Regions from separate parts of the Homo sapiens genome. Here all the other regions are linked to region 1. Evidence: fine-mapped expression QTL. A gene starts in region 1. Each other region holds a variant in brackets. All regions are shown on one strand. Distances are from middle to middle.

Region 1 (4,098 bases):
GATTACAGGCGTGAGCCACCATGCCCGGCCAGCAGCACTATTCCTAACAGACCAAAGTGAAAACTGCCCAAATGCACTGTCGATGGAATGGATGAATACGTTGTGATATACTTACACAAAACACACCATACAGCAACAAGAATGAACAATCTACAAATACACGCCAATCAATTTCTGAATTCCAGGTCACTCCCATCATAAAATACACAAGGACTAAGCTAAAATCTCCCTTGTTGTCAGAACTTGCTTCAAGTCCTAAGGGCATGGTTAGAGATCAGAGTATTTTAACTGAATAGGAAAATACTTTGAGGTCACTAGGCTTAAGTTTTTGTTGTTGTTGTTTTTTGTTTTTTGTTTTTTTTTGAGACACAGTTTCACTCTTATTGCCCAGGCTGAAATGCAATGGCACAATCTCAGCTCACCGCAGGGTGAGCTCCACCTCCAGGGTTCAAGCAATTCTCCCGCCTCAGCCTCCCAAGTAGCTGGGATTATAGGTATGCGCCACCACACCCGGCTAATTTCTGTATTTTTAGTAGAGACGGGGTTTCTCCATGTTGGTCAGGTTAGTCTCGAACTGCTGACCTCAGGTGATCCACCTGCCTCGACCTCCCAAGCAGGCTTAAGATTTTTAAAAATTAAAGTAAAAGTAAAAAAATAAAATAAACAGACTTCTAAAAGTGACCTCAATGAGCAGAACTAAGAAACAATGGGCAGCAGTAATGGAAGACAGATCCAGCTTAATGAAAGGACCGGCCGGGCGCAGTGGCTCACGCCTGTAATCCCAGCACTTTGGGAGGCCGAGGTGGGAGGATCACCTGAGGTCAGGAGTTCAAGACCAGCCTGGCCAACATGGTGAAACTCCATCTCTACTAAAAATACAAAAAAATTAGCCGGGTGTGGCGGGATGCGCCTGTAATCCCAGCTACTTGGGAGGCTGAGGCAGGAGAATCACTTGAAGAGAGTGTTGCAGTGAGCCAAGATCGTGCCATTGCACTCCAGCCTGGGCAACAAGAGCGAAAACTCCATCTCAAAAAAAAATAATAATAATAATAAAAAGGAAAGGACCAACGACCAGAATTAACAGTGCTGACAGGTAGGAAGGTAGGGTAGAGATGTGGTAAAGGGAATTTAAGATTCCAACGTAACTGAGCAGGAAGACCGCATATCTTAGCTAATCTTTACAGAGACAGAAATGGATGCTTAGAAAGAGAAAGCACCTTGCCCAGTCAGTGGCAGGGAGAGATGAGATACAAATCCTCGGCTGGGTATAGTGGCTCTCGCCTATAATCCCAACACTTTAAGAGACCAAGGTAAGAAGATCACTTGAGCCCAGGAGATCAAGGCCAGGCTGGGCAACACAGGGAGGCCGCGTCTCTACCAAAAATGTAAAAATTAGCCAGGTGTGGTGGCACGTGCCTGTGGCCCTAGCTACCTGGTAGGCTGAGGTGGGAGGATCACTTGAGCCTAAGAAGTTGAGGATGCAGACAGCTGTGATCTTGCCACTGCACTCCAGCCTGGGCGAAAGAGCAAAAATCTGGCCTCAAAAAAAAAAAAAAAAGAGAAAAATCCTTCTCCAACACTAGGAACTAGGTGTGGAACTTACTGAGTCACTTAGGTCAAGTCTCAACTTCCTCATCAGTCAAGTTAGGCCAGTAACTCCTACCTTCTAGTGTCTTTGTGACGAAGGAATGAGAACAGGAGTGAAAGCACTTTACATTATTTGTTATTACTATTATCCAGCAGCCTTTGCTAGAGGGTTGCCCCGATCTCCTGACGCTTGGCCTGAGAGATTCTATAGTGCCCAGAGATAACAGATGATACCCTGGGAATCCCTAGGTCACTCCGGGTTCCCTCCGGGGGTGTAATTAATGGTGCTTGGAGACCACTCCCTCCCTCGGCGTCCTCCACCTGCCTTACCCACACACATGCGCCCGATGATGCGGCAGCCGGCGATAGACGCGTGCACCACGGGGATGGTATCGGAGAGCTCGCCCTCGAACACACTGTAGGGACATGGACTCGGTGGTGGCGGGGCAGAGGGGCCGGCACCCTCCCACTGCCGGAGCTCTTGACTCCTGCGCACGCCTCCCCGCCACCGTAAGCCCCGGGGCTCCCGCCGCACCTGTAGAAGTTCTCTGAGCCTCCGATCGCTACCAGACAGTAGGTGTTGGTGAGCTTGGCAAAGCAGCCGATCTCACAGTTGTTCTCGAACGAAGCTCGGACCGCCATGAGGCCTAGGGGCGGCGGAGGCGGGAGTTCAAGGCCGGCGGATCCTTTCCCAAGTATCCCGGCCTCCGTCCCTCAGGCCCCGCCGCGACCCCGCCCCTCTCGGCCTCCCGGCCCCTCCGTCCTCGGGTCCCGCCCACTGGGCCCCCACCAGAACCTCCGGCCCTGAATCCTCTGGCCCCCACCCCTCCCGACCCAGGACCGGAGCTGACCCTCCCAGGTTCCCCTCACACCAGCTTACCAAGTAACCAGTAACAAGCTCCGCACGCGGCGACTGTACCTTGGACTCCCTAAAAAGGTTTCCGTTTCCACTTCCGTCCAGGGAGACTTCCGGGAGAGCCCGGCGCTCCCCGCCACGCATCCAGCCCCTCTACCTCCGGCCTCCGGCGGACTCTATGGTCGCGAGCGGTCTGGGCGCGACCCCGCCTGGCCCCACGCCTAGCCTGCTCGCGTTCATTCATTCATTATTCATTCAGGAGCTTTTTAGGAGCTGTCATCGACCTAGACCTCCGGCTGGTCGGTTGTGAGGCATGAGGGAGAGGAGGGGCCAGGAGTGTCTCGCGGAAGGGTTGATGATGGAGGTATTGATGGAAATGAAGCCGGAGGAAGGGCAGGTTTGGGGAAAGGGATGAGTCCAGCTGTGCCTTGAGGGACAGAAGTCCATGTCTGGAGCCCAGCAGGGGAGTGGAGTGCTGACGAATGAGATGAGGGGCTGAAGACGGGTGGACTAGAAGAGGCTACCCATGGAGAGAGTTCCAGGAGGCAGAAGTGCGGCCAGACCGAGGCTGGAGAAAGAGCGCAGCCAGAGACGGAAAGGCAGCCAGGCTGCAGGTGCTGGAGAGAGGGGAGGACTGAGGAAGCAGGGGCTCAGGAAAAGGCTGGAAAGGGGTCCAGGGTGGGCAAGGATGTGGGTGCTGGTTGGCTTCCACGATGTGCCTCTCGCACGGCCTCTATCACTCACTCAGCAGCCAACTTCTGTCCCCAGGATAGTGATGGGGGCCAAGGGCCCTGCTGCACACTTGGACAGGATGAACTTGGCCCACATTTTGTAGAATCTGCAAAAGCCCCGGGTTCTCTCAAAATGTCACAGTGGTAACTTGGAGCCCCTGGACTCCCCCAATTCCTCCTTCGGCATTCACCCTCCTCCAGGGGTTTCCCCATAATTGGCCTGAATGGTGCCCTTCCCATTCCCCCAACGTGTCCCTCCCATAACTCCTCAAAGTTCAGGATACACCAGGCGCTGTGATTCACAATAAAGTCTGCCTTTATTGATGTGTATCATGTTTACTATCCCGGGTAAGTGGTGAGTTCAGGAAAATGGCCCACAACCTGTCACAGCCTGTACTTCAAGAGACACTCAGCAAGATGATGACGACGACAATGATGATGATGATGATGATGACTCAGCAAGATGATGACGACGACAATGATGATGATGATAATGATGATGTGTGTGTGTGTGTGTTTCCGGGTATCCACATACTCTGCTCTTCCTCACTCATTCACCTCAGACCCACTCAGTCCTCTTTAGGGCATCTCTTTCACCTGATTCTCTCTACCAAAAATTTTTCTAACTCTCTCCTCCCTCTGTCCAAAACCTCCCCATCCTTCAGGGCCTGGCTCAAAGGCCACCTCCATCTCCTCTAAGAAAGTTTTCTGACTACTCCACCTTCTCCAGGACTCTCTGCCCTTTGTTTTCTAACACCCTCTGTAACTGGTTAACCTTTAACTTGATATGGCTCTGACCCCTTCTCCAGCAGCTTGTGCATTTCACCTCTGTCCCCAGGTCTGAGTGTGACCCACCTGTCAGCTCTACAGGCCCAGCACAGGGCTGGAAACACAGCCTAGATTCAAGAAGATACTAGTTAGGGT
Region 2 (4,121 bases), 660 kb after region 1:
GTTGTTGTTTTGTTTTGTTTTGTTTTTTGAGACGGAGTCTTGCTGTCGCCCAGGCTGGAGTGCAGTGGCGCAATCTTGGCTCACTGCAAGCTCTGCCTCCTGGGTTCACGGCATTCTCCTGCCTCAGCCTCCCAAGTAGCTGGGACAACAGGCACCCGCCACCACGTCCAGCTAATTTTTTTTGTATTTTAGTAGAGGCGGGGTTTCACCGTGTTAGCCAGGATGGTCTCGATCTCCTGACCTCGTGATCCTCCTGCCTCGGCCTCCCAAAGTGCTGGGATTACAGGTGTGAGCCACCGCCCCCGGCCCGTTTTAATGTTAATGCTGGTCAGTTGTGCATGAATTCCAAAGGGAGAAGGGTATAATGTGGCTTGTCTGACTCCCTTCCCATCATGGCCTGAACTAGTGTTTCAGTTTAATGTTGGAATGCTCTTGGCCAAGAGGAGGGGTCCATTCAGGTTGGTTGAGGGGCTTAGAATTTTATTTTTGGTTTACAATAGCAGACAGATCAGACAGATAATTAGCCCAGTTTCACAGAGGAGGAAGTAGGAATGATGCTGGTTGAGTGAGTTGTCCCAGAGTTGAAATCCAGTCAGGTCTTCTGACTGAGAGTCCAGTCCCACTCACTGTGTGTGACCACAGTGGGAGCTCACTAAGGAGTGGTCTCCTAGGAGACCACGGATTCACATTCGCTCTTGTTTAGCAAATGGTAGTGTGTGGTCAGATGGCCCAGGTGGAGCTGCTGTCCCTACTGGGAGAGTATTTAGGAATTGAGAACCCCTGCAATGGTGCCAGTTACTCCAAAGCCCATGTCCTCTTTGTCCTCTCAACAGAAGCCGGGAGCATCCTGATCTGCCGCTGTGGTGCCAGCCTTGGAAACAGCACTCAGGGGAGGGGAGATCTCATTTCAGAAACATCCCTGTCACTGACACCAGGAGCAAGGAGGAAGCTCCAAGCTATAGAACTTTGAACGGGGCAGTGGAGAAGCCCAGGCCCCTGGCCCTGCCCCTGCCGCGTTCTGTGGAGGAATCCTATATCACCAGTGAGCATTGCTACCAGAAGCCCCGCGCCTATTACCCTGCCGTGGAGCAGAAGCTGGTGGTGGAGACGAGGGGCTCTGCCCTCGACGATGCGGTCAACCCCCTCCATGAGAACGGCGATGATTCCCTTTCCCCGCGCCTGGGCTGGCCTCTAGACCAAGACAGGAGCAAGGGGGACAGTGACCCCAAACCCGGCTCCCCAAAGGTATGTGGCTGCCTTGTACTTGTTCTTCATTCATTGCGTGAATGCTTGCAAGTTATCCTCCTAGTTTGAATGCTCTATGGAAGATATTTATTAATAAAACTGTATTTAAATTTGCTTACCATAGATATGTTTTGGTTTGCCAAAATGGGTGCAAAGTCAGGAGAGCCCACTTAAGCCAAAGATCCTTGGTTCCAGGAAGCACCCACAAAATGGCATAGTCAAGTGTGGCACGTGGGGTGGGGGGCGCGGGTGCAGAGGGAGGGAGAGGTGGGAAGTAGCAAGGAGATATGGATTAGCAAAACTCATCTTTTCTTTAAGGCAGTTTGCATTATAATTGCACCTAGATGTTAATTCTTAGCATGAGCAAACAATGA[G/A]TCAAATGTTTTGTTAGGCAGAATTTTTTCAATCCAGTTGTATGATAGCTTTATTTTGACTTTTAACTTTGAAGCCCTGTGGTAAAAATGGTACACTTTGTCAAAATATTGCTGGTTTCATCAGTTTTCCCAAGAGCCACTTTTGGTTTTTTGTTATTCAAGTCATTCTCTTCTAGAACCCCCTTGTATCACCTCGTTGCCGGTGTTTTCATCTCTAACTGCTCACTAGGCTCATTGTGCCCTGTCCTCAGTTGTCAGTGAGGCTTTGTATGATTTGAGAGTTTCTCTGTCTCATCATCCTTACTTCCCAGACTTTCTCCTGCAGGTTGGTGTCACCAGTGTTAAATACATTGCTGCATGGTGCCAAGGGGATCCTAGATTACAAGCCCCTCAAGGGAGGGGATTGTATCTCATGCATCCTTGTGCCCTTGACTATGTCTAAACGGTGTTGGGCAAGGTGGTAAGAACACAGTCTTTTGAGACAGACGCAGTTTCAATTCTGAGCTCAGCCCCTTACTGTGTGATTCTGAGCGGGTTACTTCACTTTCCTGATCAGACCTGTTTTCTCGCCTGTAGAATGGGGCCAGTGAAGCCCCCTCAGTTACTGTGGAACATATTTGTGAAAATCCCTCAGTAAAATCCCTCAGTTTTGCACATAGTAAGTACTAAATAAATATTGGCTAGAATCTATTTCATTTCAAATGGATGAATGAAAGGTTGAGTTACCAAATCCTAGAAAAGGTTTGTGGTCCTGTGGATCAGGCAGGTTTCCTAGAGGTATCTGGCACATAAAACAAAGCCAGGAAATACTGGGCCTCAGCAAAGCAACCAGGGCTAACAGTCTTTTCCATTGATGGTAAGCTGACTGTAAGCTGGCCTTGCTTTTATGTGCCTTACCCTATTTCATCCTCATGAACCTTCCAAATAGGTTTTAGTACCCCCATCCTCCCACCGAGAAAGCAGAGGCTCAGAGACATGAAGTAGTCCATCCAGACTCGCACATTCGCAGGAGATGGAGCTGAGACTTGAAACGCGTTGGTGTGACTCCCGTGTACTAACCCTTGTCTGCACTAGCCCTGCTCTAATCACCTCTCAGGGCTCTGGAAGCCATTCTGTGAGGCTTACTTTAGGCTAGGACATTGGCCCAGTCAGTAGGAAGCAGCTGTGGGTCCCCTGAGCTAGAGTGCTACCCTGAGGTAGTTGGAATTGGTACAGTGGGCAAGCTCCTGCCCAGTTCCTAAGTGGGAAATAGGAAAGGGAGGTAGGGATTTGGAGTATTGAAACTGCAGCTAGTATTTCAGGTGGCTGGAAATGCTGGCTGGTTGAAAAATGGGCCAGGGGCTATCTCCATTCAGTAATTTCCATGCCATTGCATCCCCAGGTGAAGGAATATGTCTCCAAAAAGGCCCTACCAGAAGAAGCCCCTGCTCGGAAGCTGCTGGACAGAGGTGGAGAGGGGCTGCTGAGCTCCCAGCACCAGTGGCAGTTTAACCTGCTGACCCATGTGGAATCTCTTCAGGATGAAGTTACGCACAGGATGGACTCCATTGAGAAGGAGTTGGATGGTAGGGCTCCTTCATTGGCCCCCTGTGCATTGGCATGCAGTCGAGCACCCCCAGACGAGCTGCTTTCTGAACCCCCCAGTCTGAGTTTACAGGGACCGCTGTACTCTTTGCTTCTCTTCTTTTCAGCCTCTCCCCACCTCCATTCTCCCCTCAGGATGGATGAGCCTTACTTTTAGTATTTATCAGGTGCAAGATCTGCATGATGTTGGGTCCTGCCTCACTTGTCTGATCCCTTCTGTAAAGTTGAGTATGCAGAGAGAGGGCAACTGGCAGTCCTGCTTGCAGGAAATATGTGATCTAAGCCAATCTTTACAAACAAGTTCTGTGAGAAATTAAAATTTTGACTTGAGTTTTAGGATATCTGAGGATTTAATCTGAAAAACCTCTTATTCCAATCTTTGATAAAATCTAAAATGAAGCTTTCTCCTCGTAAGCCAGTAGAGATTTGAGAATTTGCCTGAGTCATTTGTATAGCCCTGAGTATTCCTTCCAGATATTGGTGGTTACGGACAGGCCTGGAGGATCAAACCGGTGATGATGAACATGATCAAGTTCAGTCTCTCTCCAGGAAGTTGACGGTTTTGGTTGTTGAAATATTCCCTAATTATTTGTTTTCATGTTGAAAATGGAGCCCAGTTAAAAAAGAAATGTTGTTTGAGGATTCTGGGTACAGTCTGGCTATGATTTTTTACTGTAACTGGGAATATAAAACATACATGAAATAACTCAGGAGAAAATGCCATCTGTTATACAAGTGATGCCATGAGGTGTGGCCGGGACACATGTGGCTGATGTCAATGCAGAGGAGGAGAGTGCTAATAGGAGGGCTTCCTAAAACTCCTGAGACTGAAGTTGAGCTTTAAGGAGAGTGATGGTGTTTCCTACTGGAGAGGACTCAGGGTGGATGATCTGGCTAGACTGGAAAAAGAGTTGCCCT
Region 3 (4,121 bases), 79 kb before region 1:
CTGAGGCAGGAGAATTGCTTGAATCCAGGAGGTGGAGGTTGCAGTGAGCTGAGATCGCACCACTGCACTCCAGCCTGGGTAACAGAACAAGACTCTGTCTCAAAAAAAAAGAAAAAAAAGAAAAAAAAGAGAACTCTCAAATATTTAGAAATTGTTAATATACTTCTAAATAATCCATGGGTCAGAGAAAAAATCTTAAAGTAAATCAGAAAATATTTGAACTGACTGAACATCAAAACAAAACATATCAAAATTTATGGGTTGCAGCTAATGCAGCGTGTACAGGAACATTTATAGCTTTACATGCCTATGATAGAAAAAAGAAAGGCCTCAAATCATACTCTAAGCTTCTACCTTAAGAAACTAGAGAAAGAACAAATTAAACCTAAATCAAGCAGAAGAAAAAGAAATTAGAAAAGCAGAATTCAATGAAATTGAAAACAGAAAAAAATAGAGAACAATCAATAAAACCAAAAGCTTTGAAAAGGTGTACAGAATTCATAAACTTTTTGACAGATTTACCAAGGAAAAGAAAGAGAGAAGACATAAATTACTAATATCAGGAATGAAAGAGGGGATGTCACTTCAGACCCTCCAGATATTAAAAGGATAATAAGAGAATATTACAAACAACTCTATGCTCATAAGTTTGACAACTTAGAGGAAATGGACCAATTTCTTGAAAGACACAAATTACCTAAACTCAGTCCAGAAGAAACAGATCAGAGAAATAGTCCTAAATGTACTAAAGAAAATTTAATTCATAGTTTAAAACCTTCCAATGTAGAGAAGAAAACTCCAGGCCCAGAAGGTTTCTTTTCTTTTCCTTCCTTCCTCCCTCCCTCCCTCCTTCCCTCCCTCCCTCCCTCCTTCCTTCCTTCCTTCTCTCTTTTCTTTCCTTTTCTCTTTTCTTTTCTTTCCTTTTCTTTCTTTTCTTTGTGGCAGGGACTCACTCCTGTTATTCAGGCTGGAGTACAGTGGTGCAATCACAGCTCACTGCAGCCAAGACTTCCACACCCAGCAAATTTTTTTGTATTTTTAGTAGAGATGGGTTTTCATCATGTTGCCCAGGCTGGTCTCGAACTCCTGGCTCAAGCAATCTGCCTGCCTTAGCTTCCCAAAGTGCTGGGATTACAGGCATGCGCCACCATGCCTGGCCCCCAAATGGTTTCACTGGGAAATTCTACCAAATGTTAAAGAAAGAAATAGTATCAATTCCACACAAACTCTTCCAGAAAATCAAAAAAACTTAGCTCATTTTATGAAGGCAGCATGGTCCTGATGCCAAAATTTGAAAAAGATAACAAGAAAACTATAGAACAATACTTCACATGAACATATACCCCAAAACTTCAACAAACTACAAACTATTAGCAAAGGAATCCAGAAATATATATATATTTTTAAAAAATAATACTTCACTACTATGTGGAGTTTATCCCAGGTAATTTAATGCTGGTGTAACATTCAAAAATAGCCAGGCATGGTGGCTCACGCCTGTAATCCCAGCACTTTGGGAGGGTGAAGCGGGCAGATCACCTGAGGTCAAGAGTTTGAGACCAGCCTGGCCAACGTGGTGAAACCCCGTCTCTACTAAAAATACAAAAATTAGCTGGGTATGGTGGTGTGCACTAGTAGTCCCAGCTACTTGGGAGGCTGAGGCAGGAGAATTGCTTGAACC[C/T]GGGAGGTGGAAGTTGCAGTGAGCTGAGATCGCACCACTGTACTCCAGCTTGGGGGACAGAGCAAGACTCCATCTCAATAATAATAATAATAATAAATAAATGAGCATAATTCACCATATTGGCAGACTAAGGAAGAAAAAAACACATGATAATCCTAACTGATGAAGAAAATGCATTAACAAAATTTAAAACCCATTCATGATAAAAAAAAAAAAATCTCTCAGCAAACTAGAGAAGGAAACTTCGTTAATCCAAAAATATATATATATATTGGCCGGGCGCAGTGGCTCACACCTATAATCCCAGCACTTTGGGAGGCCGAGGCAGGCGGATCACCTGAGGTCCAGAGTTCAAGACCAGCCTTACCAACGTGGAGAAACCTCGTCTCCACTAAAAATACAAAATTAGCCGGGTGTGGTGGTGCATGCTTGTAATCCCAGCTACTCGGGAGGCTGAGGCAGGAGAATTGCTTGAACCTGGGAGGTGGAGGTTGCAGTGAGCCAAGATCATGCCATTGCACTCCAGCCTGGGCAACAAGGACAAAACTCTGTCTAAATATATATATATATATATATATATATATATATATATGTATATATACACACATATATATGTACATATATACATATATCTACATATACATATATACATGTATACATATACATATGTATACATGTATATATGTATATATGTGTATGACCTCCGGTGATCCCCCCCCCAACCTCGGCCTCCCAAAGTGCTGGGATTACAGGTGTGAGCCACTGCACTTGACCGCAAATCACATTTCTAACAAAGGACTTGAATCCAGAATTTATTTTTTAACATTTTTAAAAAATTTTATTTTATTTTATTTTTGGTAGAGACAGGATTTTTGTATGTTGCCCAGGCTGGTCTCAAACTTCTGACCTCAAGTGATCCTCCTGCTCAGCCTCCCAAAGCACTAGGACTACAGGCATGAGCCACTGTGCCTGGCCTAGAATTTATAAAGAACCCTCAGTAGGGCGCAGTGCCTCATGCCTGTAATCCCAGCACTTTGGGAGGCTGAGGCAGGCGGATCACGAGGTCAGGAGTTCAAGACCAGCCTGGCCAACATAGTGAAACCTCGTCTCTACTAAAAATACAAAAAAATTAGCCAGGCATGGTGGCAGGCACCTGTAATCCCAGCTACTCAGGAGAATGAGGCAGGACAATCACTTGAACCCGGGAGGCAGAGGTTGCAGTAAGCCAAGATGGCGTCACTGCAGTCCAGCCTGGGCAACAGTGTGAGACTCTATCTCAAAAAAAAAAAAAAAAAAAAAAACTCTCAAAACTCAGAAATAAGAAAACAAACAATTTTTTAAAAAGGCAAAAGTTTTGAACAGGCACCTCACCAGAGAAGATACATGGATGGCAAATAAATATTTGAAAATATGCTCAACATCATTTGTTGGTAGGGAATTGCAAATTAAAACCACAGTAAGGTATGTCTATACACCTATTGAAATTGAAAAAAATCCCTGACAATACCAATTGTTGGTGAGAAGGCGGAACAACTGCCACTCTCATAAATTACTGGTGGGAAAACAAAATGATACAGCCCCTCTAGGTTTCTTATAAAGTTAAACACACACTTACCATAGGCTCCAACAATCCCTCCTAGAAATTAGCCCAAGTAAAATGAAAATTTATGTTCATACCAAAACCTGTACGTGAATGTTTACAGAAGCTTTATTCATAATTGCCAAAACTAGAAACAACCTAAATATTCCTCAACTGGGAAGTGGAGTAACAAACTGTGGTACATCCATACAATACACTACTACTCAGCAATGAAAAGGAATTGACTACTGATACACTCAACAACATGGATGAATCTTAAATCCATTATGCCAAGTGAAAGAAGCCAAATTCAAAATACAACATATTGTATGGTTCCATTTTATATGACAGTCTGGAAAAGAAAAAACTATAGGAATAGAGAACATATCAGTGTTGCCAGGGCTTAAGGGTAGGGAAGGCTTTGACTACAAAGGGGTAACAAAAGGGAATTTGGGAAGGTGATTAACTGTTTTATTTTTTTGTTTGTGTGTGGTGGTGTTTACATAATTCTTTGCATTTGTCAAAACTCACAGAACTCTACACCAAAATGTAAATTTTACTGAATGTAAATTACAATTAAATTATATGTATGCAAATCTATTATGTGTATGTTTGTGTATATATATATATATATATATACACATATGAATATTTTTAAAAGCTTTTTCCCCTCATATTACTATCAAGTCATATCTCACAGATTTTGTATTTGTACAATTATTCTTTCTTGAGCCTGAAATTAGTTAGGACTGTTTTGTTTTGTTTTTTTCTTGAGATGGAGTCTTACTCTGTTGCCCAGGCTGGAGTACAGTGGTATGATCTCGGCTCACTGCAACCTCTGCCTCCCAAGTTCAAGTGATT
Region 4 (4,121 bases), 71 kb before region 1:
GGATTACAGGCGTGAGCCACCATGCCTGGCCTTTCTTATGAAGACTAGCAGAACTACAATTATGAAGAAAAAGTCGGCTTGGAGCCTCAACCCCAGGAACTTTCTCAGGTGGAGTACATCTGGAAGTTGAGGATCTGGAAATGAATTTCCTTAAATATATCCATGCATGAGTACCGCTTACCAAGCCTTCATTTACTTTACGGCTATTGCATACCCCATTTGAAAACCAGTGTTGCAAAGGACTGGGGGCAATCTGAAACTACTGGGTTCCTGGAACCTGGCACTGATTGATGGGGCCAGTGGGCCCTAATGAGATTGCACCTCCATTTTAAAAGCGTGAAAGGTATAAGGAGATTCAGAGATAGGTGTAAATGGCTTGCGGGAGCCTCCAAAATTTTCAGGTCCAGGTACCTCCCACCCCTTCAAGGGACTGTCTGATACTATTCTATGGCTCCTGGAATGAAGAACCAGTCATCAGGACCTGCTGGCCTCTATTAAATTAAGAGTCCAGTCAGATTTAACAACCTGAAGATGAGGTGTAACTGTGAAGCAATATATGGCTGATTTTTTAACACACCCATCCAAATACATCCACTCCAGCTGATTCATTCTCTCAACTCCCATGTGCTAGGTAATGTATGAGGTGCCAGAGTTACCCAAAAAACAAACAAAGCACAATCCATAGGCCAAGTCCTGCAGAAACTCTAGGAGAGAAACTTTTAAAGAAATAATTATAAAAACACTGTGATCGGCTGGGCGTGGTGGCTCACGCCTGTAATATCAGCACTTTGGAAGGCTGAGGCAGGAGGATCACCCGAGATCAGGAGTTTGAGACCAGCCTGGCCAACATGGTGAAACACCATCTCTACTAAAAATATAAAAAAATTAGCTGGGTGTGGTGGCTCACAACTGTAATCCCAGCTACTTGGGAGACTGAGAGCAGGAGAATTGCTTGAACCTAGGAGGCAGAGGTTGTAGTGAGCCAAGATCATGCCACTGCACTCCAGCCTGGGTTACAAGAGTGAAACTCTGTCTCAAGAAAAAAAAAAACAAACACTGTGATAAAGAGTTAATAAAACTATGTGCAAGAGCTAGGGGAGTACTGAAGAAAGAGTGATTTGAGTAAGAACTTTGTAAGACTTTGAGTAAGAACTTTTTAAGACTTTGGGAAAACTTCCCAAAGGAGGTCACATTAGAGTTATTTATTGGCAGGCGTGTAGTACATCATAGAGAAAAAGAGATGGCAGTGGAAGGATGTTCCAGGCAGAGGATGCAGCATGTCACATGGGCAGCCAGTGTCCAAGTGACACTCAAGGGGCAAGACCTGCTTCATGGACTTGTGACCTCTGTAGTCACACAGGGCCCCCCTCTTAGAAGGGCCCTCACGCTTGTTTTAATGTTCTGCTGTCATCATTTTGAAATTCTTATTTTTTTTTTAACAAGGAGACTTGCATTTTCATTTTTGCACTGGGCCCTGCAAATTACGTAGCAGGTCCTGCAAGAGGGCAAGATGAAGGCAGGGAGACCTGCTGGGAAGTTATTACTGCGGTCCAAGTAAGAGATAATGAAGGGGCTAAATCAAGGTCTTGTCGTAACAGTAATACACAGCCACACCATTTTCAACTTCTTCCCAGTGTATTCCTCAGTTTAGATGTAGCAATTTCCCCAACTGGAAAGTACTTAGGTTGATTTTGGTGTTTTGTAATTACAAAGAATGAGGCAATTGAATAATTTGCTACAAATAATTTTGTGTTTGCACCTATGCAAGGATATCTATCTAGGATAAATTCTCAGAATTAGAATTGATGGGTCAAAGGTATGCTCATTTTCAAGGTTGATAGGCATTGCCAGTTGGTGACCTGAAGAGAGTAAACCAATTTGTATCTCTTCCAACAGTATGGAGGAGTATCTGTTTTATCATGCCCTCTTTAACACTCTGTAGTATCCAACCTTTTGGTATTTGCAGTCTGATAATGTTAAGAAAGCAGTGGCTGATTGTCTTAATTTGCCTTTCTTTAATTACAAACATGGTTGGTCATTTAAAAAATTATTATAGGAGTCTGTTCAGGCCAGGCACAGTGGCTCACGCCCATAATCCCAGC[A/T]CTTTGGGAGGCCGAGGCAGATGGATCACTTGAGGCCAAGAGTTCCAGATCAGCCTGGCCAACACGGCAAAACCGCGTCTCTACAAAAAACACAAAAAAATTAGTCAGGTATGGTGGCATGTGCCTGTAGTCCCAGCTACTTGGGAGGCTGAGACATGAGAATCGCTTGAACCAAGGAAGCAGAGGTTGCAGTGAGTTAAGATCGTGCCACTGCACTCCATCCTGGGTAACGGAGCGAGACTGTCTCAAAAAAAAAAAAGAGTCCATTTATATTTCTGTTTGCATGAAGCCCATTTAGTCCTTCGCCATTATTGAATTGGGTCATAGGTCTTTTTCTTATTGGTTTATAACAGCTGTTTTACGTTAAAAAAATAATAATAAATATTTTACCTAGTTTATAGTTTGTTGCTTTATTTCTGCTTTTTTTTTGGCCATGCAGATGAAGGCCTGAATTTTTGAAACCTAAGTGAACTGTTACTGCTTTCACTGTATACCAGTATTTTGCAATATAAGCCCTCTTTTCAGGGAGTGGCCTTTAGAGACTATTACACTTATTTTTTTAGAAGCTCAGCTTGTTCATTTGGAGAACATACAATATTAAAGGGAAAAAATGCTCAGCTTGTACTTATTTTTTGAAGAGATAATATATCCACATGATTAAAAAGTCAAAAGATACAAAAAGGTATACAGTGAGAAAAATCTCCTTCCAGCCAGGCATGGTGGCTCCCACCTGTAATCCCAGCACTTTTGGGAGGCCAAGGCAGGCGGATCACATGAGGCCAGGAGTTCGAGACCAGCCTGCCCAACATGGTGAAACACTGTCTCTACTAAAAATATAAAAAATAGCTGGGCTTTGTGGTGTTTGCCTGTAGTTCTAGCTACTTCGGAGGCTGAGGCAAGAGAATTGCTCCAACCCAGGAGGCAGAGGTTTCGGTGAGCCGAGACTGTGCCACTGCACTCCAGCCTGGGTAACAGAGCGTGACTCCATCTCAAAAAAATAAAATAAAATAATTAAAAAAAATTAAAAAATAAAAATAAAAATTGCCTTCCCACCCTGTCCTCAAACCACTTAAGCTTCCCTCCAGGAAGTAAGCACTATTATCAGTTCCTTGGGTATCTGTCCCTATTTTATGTGTAAATGAGCAAGTGCATGCACACACATGTATTCTTTTTTCCGATTATTACACAAATAGTAGCCTACAATATCCAGGATTCTGCACCTTTGCCTTTTTTTTACCACTTAACATTACATTTTGGAAATAATGTCCTAATTATTCATAAATTCGTAAGTACTTCCTCATTTTAAAAAATGGCTGCATTGGGCCGGGCGCGGTGGCTCACGCCTGTAATCCCAGCACTTTGGGAGTCCAAGGCGGGTGGATCACAAGGTCAGGAGATCGAGACCATCCTGGCTATCACGGTGAAACCCTGCCTCTACTAAAAAAATACAAAAAAATTAGCTAGGCGTGGTGGTGGGCGCCTGTAATCCCAGCTACTCGGGAGGCTGAGGCAGGAGAATTGCTTGAACCCAGGAGGTGGAGGTTGCAGTGAGCCGAGATCGCGCCACTGCACTCCAGCCTGGGCGACAGAGCGAAACTCCATCTCAAAAAAAAAAAAAAAAAATTACAAAAGGCTGCATAGTGTCCCATTGTATGCATTGGTTTGAATATGCTTTTAAGGGAGAAACCTGAGTAAGAAATACTCTCAAGTCATTTGGGGCTGGACATTGAGACTGAGTCGGGGGATTGGACTGGGACCTTCTCTAGATCCTGAACAATCAGACCTTTTCCTTCCTCCAGGCCTTTACCTCCCATTTTCTTTTTCTTTTTTTTTTTTTTTTTGAGATGGAGTCTCACTCTGTAGCCCAGGCTGAAGTGCAGTGGCACCATCTCAGCTCACTGCAACCTCTGTCTCCTGGGTTCAAGAGATTCTCCTGCCTCGGCCTCCTGAGTAGCTGGGATTACAGGCACGCGCCACCAAGCCAGGCTAATTTTTTTGTGTTTTTAGTAGAAACGGGGT
Region 5 (4,121 bases), 850 kb after region 1:
TAATGCCACCTCACAGGGCTTGTTGCCAAGATGACATGTCTGCCATACAGGAGACACCAAGTTCCCTTCCCTGCTCTCTCTTCTAAACAAGGCAGGGAGATGGGGAAAGTTCAGACTGAGGAGGGGCCCTAGGCTGCAAGACCTGAGGTGCCCCAGGCCGGGCCTTAGATGCTGCTCATTCCTGGCAGTGCCAAAAAGCAGGGAGAAAAAAGTATTGGCCTTGGGTGGATGGGGGAGGCTGTGTGTCAGAGCTAATGTTTAAATAACACTTTTAAGATCCTCCAGGGACCTCAAATGAGGATTTTTCAGATGAGCTGAAAATGGAGCAAAGTAATGAGACTGAGCTCACTGGCAGGAAAGGGAGCAGCCTTAATTGGTACTGGCCCTGCCTTGGCCCCGTGACACTCATTACCACAGGCTGCCCAGGAGGATGACCCGTGCATTTGGGCTGTAAGCAATGTCAATTTCTTAGCATGGGGTGATGGGGTTGCATCTGGTAGTGACTCAGCCCTGCTTCTTGTCGACTCACCAGGTTGAGGGTCAGAGAGGACTTCTTAGTTGGCCTTCAGAGCCTGGTTTAGTTTTTAGCTTTGTGACCTAGCCTCTCTCCACCTCTGGGGTCTAGAGGCAGCAGCCAGACCTGGCCACTGTCTGTCACAGGTGTGGTGGGAGGCAGGGATGGGATGTTGAAGTCAGGCATGAGTTGCTGGGGGACCTTCCCTCCTTTGCTGAGGTTTGCCTGGGGTCCTGGATGAGGTGGGTGGAGAGAGGGAGGAAGGGGCATTCTCAGAAGAAAAAAGGCTGGTGGGTGTGTGGGTGGGTGAATTTGTGCCAATGAGATGTGACTCTCTGGGCAAGCTTGTGTAGCTTACATGGAGGAGGCACAGAATCTAAGGGACATGTCTCAAAGAGGCTGAGGGATGGGCCTAAGAAGCCAGCATGGGTGGGGGTGAGGGGTGGGTCCTGGGAGTGGTTTGGTTTGCGAGTCCCTGTGGAAACACAGGTGGTAGAATTGGTGAATGGTATGGACCAAGAGTCCTATTCTGAAGACACCAGAAAATTCTGACCAGGCTCTTGTACGTGAGGCCTCTTCTGTTTTGCTTGGGCTGGACTGCGGGGTGAATGGCCACGGGTGTGGTAAGTTACCGCTTCTCCTGGGGGGAGCCTGGTTTGCATTGTAAATACTGCTCCTGGAGCCACTGGTCATGGTGGGGGCACTTTTTCAGACGCCTTCCTGGGGAATGTGTGAGGGCCGATTGTTAGATCATTCTTGGCACCTGGTTTGCATTATGAATGCAGTTGGGAGGCATAAGGGCAAGCATTGGGTCACTAGCGGGTCCCAGGCCACCCTGACCCCAGGCTCACTGCTCCCGAAGCACTCCCTCTCCTTGGTCTCTGGGACAGCACACCCCACTTTCTGGCTTTCTCACTCTGGCCTGCCCTCATTTGCCTGTTGCTGCTCCTCTCCTTAACTGTTCAGTGTGTGGGTTCCTCAGGGCTGCATTGCAGTTATTGTCGTTTTTAAAATAATACCGTTTTTTAATTTTAAAAATTCAATTTATTCATTTATTTTAAAAATTACAAATGAGAGCTCATTATGTTGGCCAGGCTGGAGTGCAGTGGCAACTCACAGGTGCAATCACAGCCTCAAACTCTTTGACTCAAGGGATCCTCCTACTTCAGCCTCCAGAGTAGCCGGGATTACAGAGTGTGCCACTGCACCCGGCAGGTTTGTTTTTTTTTTTTGTTTTTTTTTTTTGAGACGGAGTCTTGCTCTGTCACTCAGCCTGGAGTGCAGTGGCGTGATCTCAGCTTACTGCAACCTCCGCCCCCCAGGTTCAAGTGATTCTCATGCCTCAGCCTCCCAAGTAGCTGGGATTACAGGCACCCGCCACCATGCCCAATTAATTTTTCTATTTTTAGTAGAGACGGTATTTCTCCATATTGGCCAGGCTGATTTCGAACTCCTGACCTCAAGTGATCTGCTCGCCTTGGCCTTCGAAAATGCTGGGATTACAGGCATGAGCCACCTTGCCCAGCAGTGTTTTTTTTTTTGTTTTTTTTAATTAAAACCATAATAACATAGTACCAAGATTTGGGAAAACAGGAAGCAGAAAAAAATTACTCCTGAATATGATTGGGAGCTTGGAGTGTTTCCTTTCACCAGTTTTCCTTTGCTCTTTCTTGCACAGTCATAATTTCTACCGCATCATCAGTACTGTCCTGCATTTTTCTCTTAATG[T/G]TGTATCGGAAGCTGCCTTCCGTGTCGTTACTGAGGATTCTATTAAATACACGATCAACTCATCCCTTTTCCTGCTCATGGATATTCCGGCTGTTTCTAGTTTTTGCTATTATGAATAACAGTGCAATGAACATTGCATAAAATGTTCTTCCTGTATTTCAGATGATGATGTCTCTTGGGGTGAAGACCCAGGAAGAGAATGCTGGGTAAAAGGCTGTGGCTGCCTTAGAGGCTCTCAGTAAACTTGCCAAACTGCTATGCCAACCTTTAACCCCCAGCATCCAGGGTGAATGGCAGGAACTGTTTTTTATTTTTCTCTCTCTCTCTATTTGATTTTTAAAAATTTCTCTCTCTCTCTCTCTCTCTCTCTCTCTTTTTTTCCCCGAGACAGAGTTTTGCTCTTGTTGCCCAGGCTGGAGTACAGTGGCATGATCTCGGCTCACTGTAACCTCTGCCTCTGGGTTCAAGGGATTCTCCTGTCTCAGCCTCCTGAGTAGCTGGGATTACAGGAGCCCGCCACCACACCCGGCTAATTTTTTTTTTTTTTTTTGAGACAGAATTTTGCTCTTGTTGCCCAGGCTGGAGTGCAATGGCTCAATCTTGGCTCACTGCAGCCTCTGCCTCCTGGGTTCAAGTGATTCTCCTGCCTCAGCCTCCCGAGTAGCTGGGGTTACAGGCATGTGCCACCACGCCCAGCTAATTTTGTATTTTTAGTAGAGATGGGGTTTCTCTATGTTGGTCAGGCTGGTCTTGAACTCCTGGCCTCTGGTGATCCGCCCGCCTCGGCCTCCCAAAGTGCTGGGATTTCAGGCATGAGCCACCGCGCCTGGCTAATTTTTGTATTTTTAGTAAAGATGGGGTTTCACCATGTTGGCCAGGCTAGTCTCAAATTCCTGACGTCAGGTGATCCACCCACCTTGGCCTCCCAAAGTGCTGAGATTACAGGTGTGAGCCACCACACCCAGCCTGTTTTTTATTTCTCTTAGGTCTGAAGAGCCTGTTCCTTGTGTGTAGGGACTGCTCCCAACTGTCCTCTGTCCATGCATTCATTCATCCTAAGGCGGGAGGCAGAATAGGGCTGTGGTGTCAGGCTGCCTGGGTTCAAACCAGCCTCCCCTCTTAACCACCTTGTGTCCACTTCCTCAGCTGTAAAGTGAACATCATGACAGGGAGCTACCTCACAGGGTCCCTGTGAGGCTTTCTGTGCATGAAAGCATGGAAGACACTTGAAATACTACGGTAAGCCAGGATGACAATGGTCAGGCCTAGAGAGAGGAAGGGGCTGATCTCTCACCACCTAGTGATGCAGGGGCAGAGCTGAGGCCAGAATCAGGCTTCCTGCCTCCAGTGCTCTCTTTCCCTGATGCCAGGCTACTGCTGTGGATGGTGTGGTTTATGGCGTAGGTGGCCCTCTGTTCAAGAATATGTGGGAGGGGTGGAGGGCCTGGATGGATCTATAAGGTGGGGTCTCTCCCTTTCCTCCCAGAGCCGTCACCTTCTTTCTGGGGTGCTTTCCCCCACAAAGTTATCTCTCTAGGTTAGAGCTTGGGGCCCCAGCTCAGGCCTGTTCCCCAGAGGTATATCCAGGGGACATCTGGCCCCAAGGAATCTCCCTGGCTAGCCCTTGAGGAGGGCGTTTCAGTCTGGAGGGAAAGGTGAGTTCTGAGGACCCCTCCCTAGGTGACTGTGTCAGTTTCCTAATGCTGCCCTAACAAATGACCATATACTTAAAACAACACAAATGGATGACCCTAGACTTCTAGAGGTCAAAATCTGAAAATGGACCTTATGGGGCCGAAGTCAGGGTGTTGGCAGAGCTGCTAGGGGAGGATCCTCACCTGGCCTTTTCCAGCTCTCCAGGCCACCCACATGCCTTGGT

The links. PIP is the estimated chance that this variant, and not a neighbour inherited with it, causes the effect.
Region 2: its variant is the best candidate, but not a certain one, in a credible set for the expression of EIF6 in whole blood (TOPMed, PIP 0.58).
Region 3: its variant is the best candidate, but not a certain one, in a credible set for the expression of EIF6 in whole blood (TOPMed, PIP 0.90).
Region 4: its variant is the best candidate, but not a certain one, in a credible set for the expression of EIF6 in whole blood (TOPMed, PIP 0.83).
Region 5: its variant is the best candidate, but not a certain one, in a credible set for the expression of EIF6 in whole blood (TOPMed, PIP 0.80).

The regions. Positions count from the first base shown.
Region 1 is chr20:35,282,259-35,286,356 of GRCh38, forward strand. It overlaps EIF6 (eukaryotic translation initiation factor 6), which reads right to left and starts at 2,514. Exons shown (of 7, transcript NM_002212.4): 1 at 2,468-2,514; 2 at 2,123-2,234; 3 at 1,918-2,003. The coding sequence starts at 2,229. It overlaps FAM83C (family with sequence similarity 83 member C), which reads right to left. Exons shown (of 4, transcript NM_178468.6): 4 at 3,473-4,098. It overlaps FAM83C-AS1 (FAM83C antisense RNA 1), which reads left to right and starts at 2,993. Exons shown (of 2, transcript NR_109815.1): 1 at 2,993-3,057; 2 at 3,212-3,514. RefSeq lists a silencer at 2,244-2,433 and an enhancer at 2,526-3,076.
Region 2 is chr20:35,937,864-35,941,984 of GRCh38, forward strand. It overlaps PHF20 (PHD finger protein 20), which reads left to right. Exons shown (of 18, transcript NM_016436.5): 16 at 834-1,245; 17 at 3,001-3,184. Among named protein-coding and RNA genes, the nearest start is that of SCAND1, 15 kb to the right of the region's middle. The variant G/A (reference allele first, on the strand shown) is at 1,620.
Region 3 is chr20:35,203,516-35,207,636 of GRCh38, forward strand. The region is part of intron 4 of MMP24-AS1-EDEM2 (MMP24-AS1-EDEM2 readthrough); the gene reads right to left. It also overlaps a transcript of PROCR not described here. Among named protein-coding and RNA genes, the nearest start is that of MMP24, 21 kb to the right of the region's middle. The variant C/T (reference allele first, on the strand shown) is at 1,682.
Region 4 is chr20:35,210,982-35,215,102 of GRCh38, forward strand. The region is part of intron 4 of MMP24-AS1-EDEM2 (MMP24-AS1-EDEM2 readthrough); the gene reads right to left. It also overlaps a transcript of PROCR not described here. Among named protein-coding and RNA genes, the nearest start is that of MMP24, 14 kb to the right of the region's middle. The variant A/T (reference allele first, on the strand shown) is at 2,103.
Region 5 is chr20:36,128,201-36,132,321 of GRCh38, forward strand. It overlaps a transcript of EPB41L1 not described here. Among named protein-coding and RNA genes, the nearest start is that of EPB41L1, 24 kb to the right of the region's middle. RefSeq lists an enhancer at 787-1,288. The variant T/G (reference allele first, on the strand shown) is at 2,243.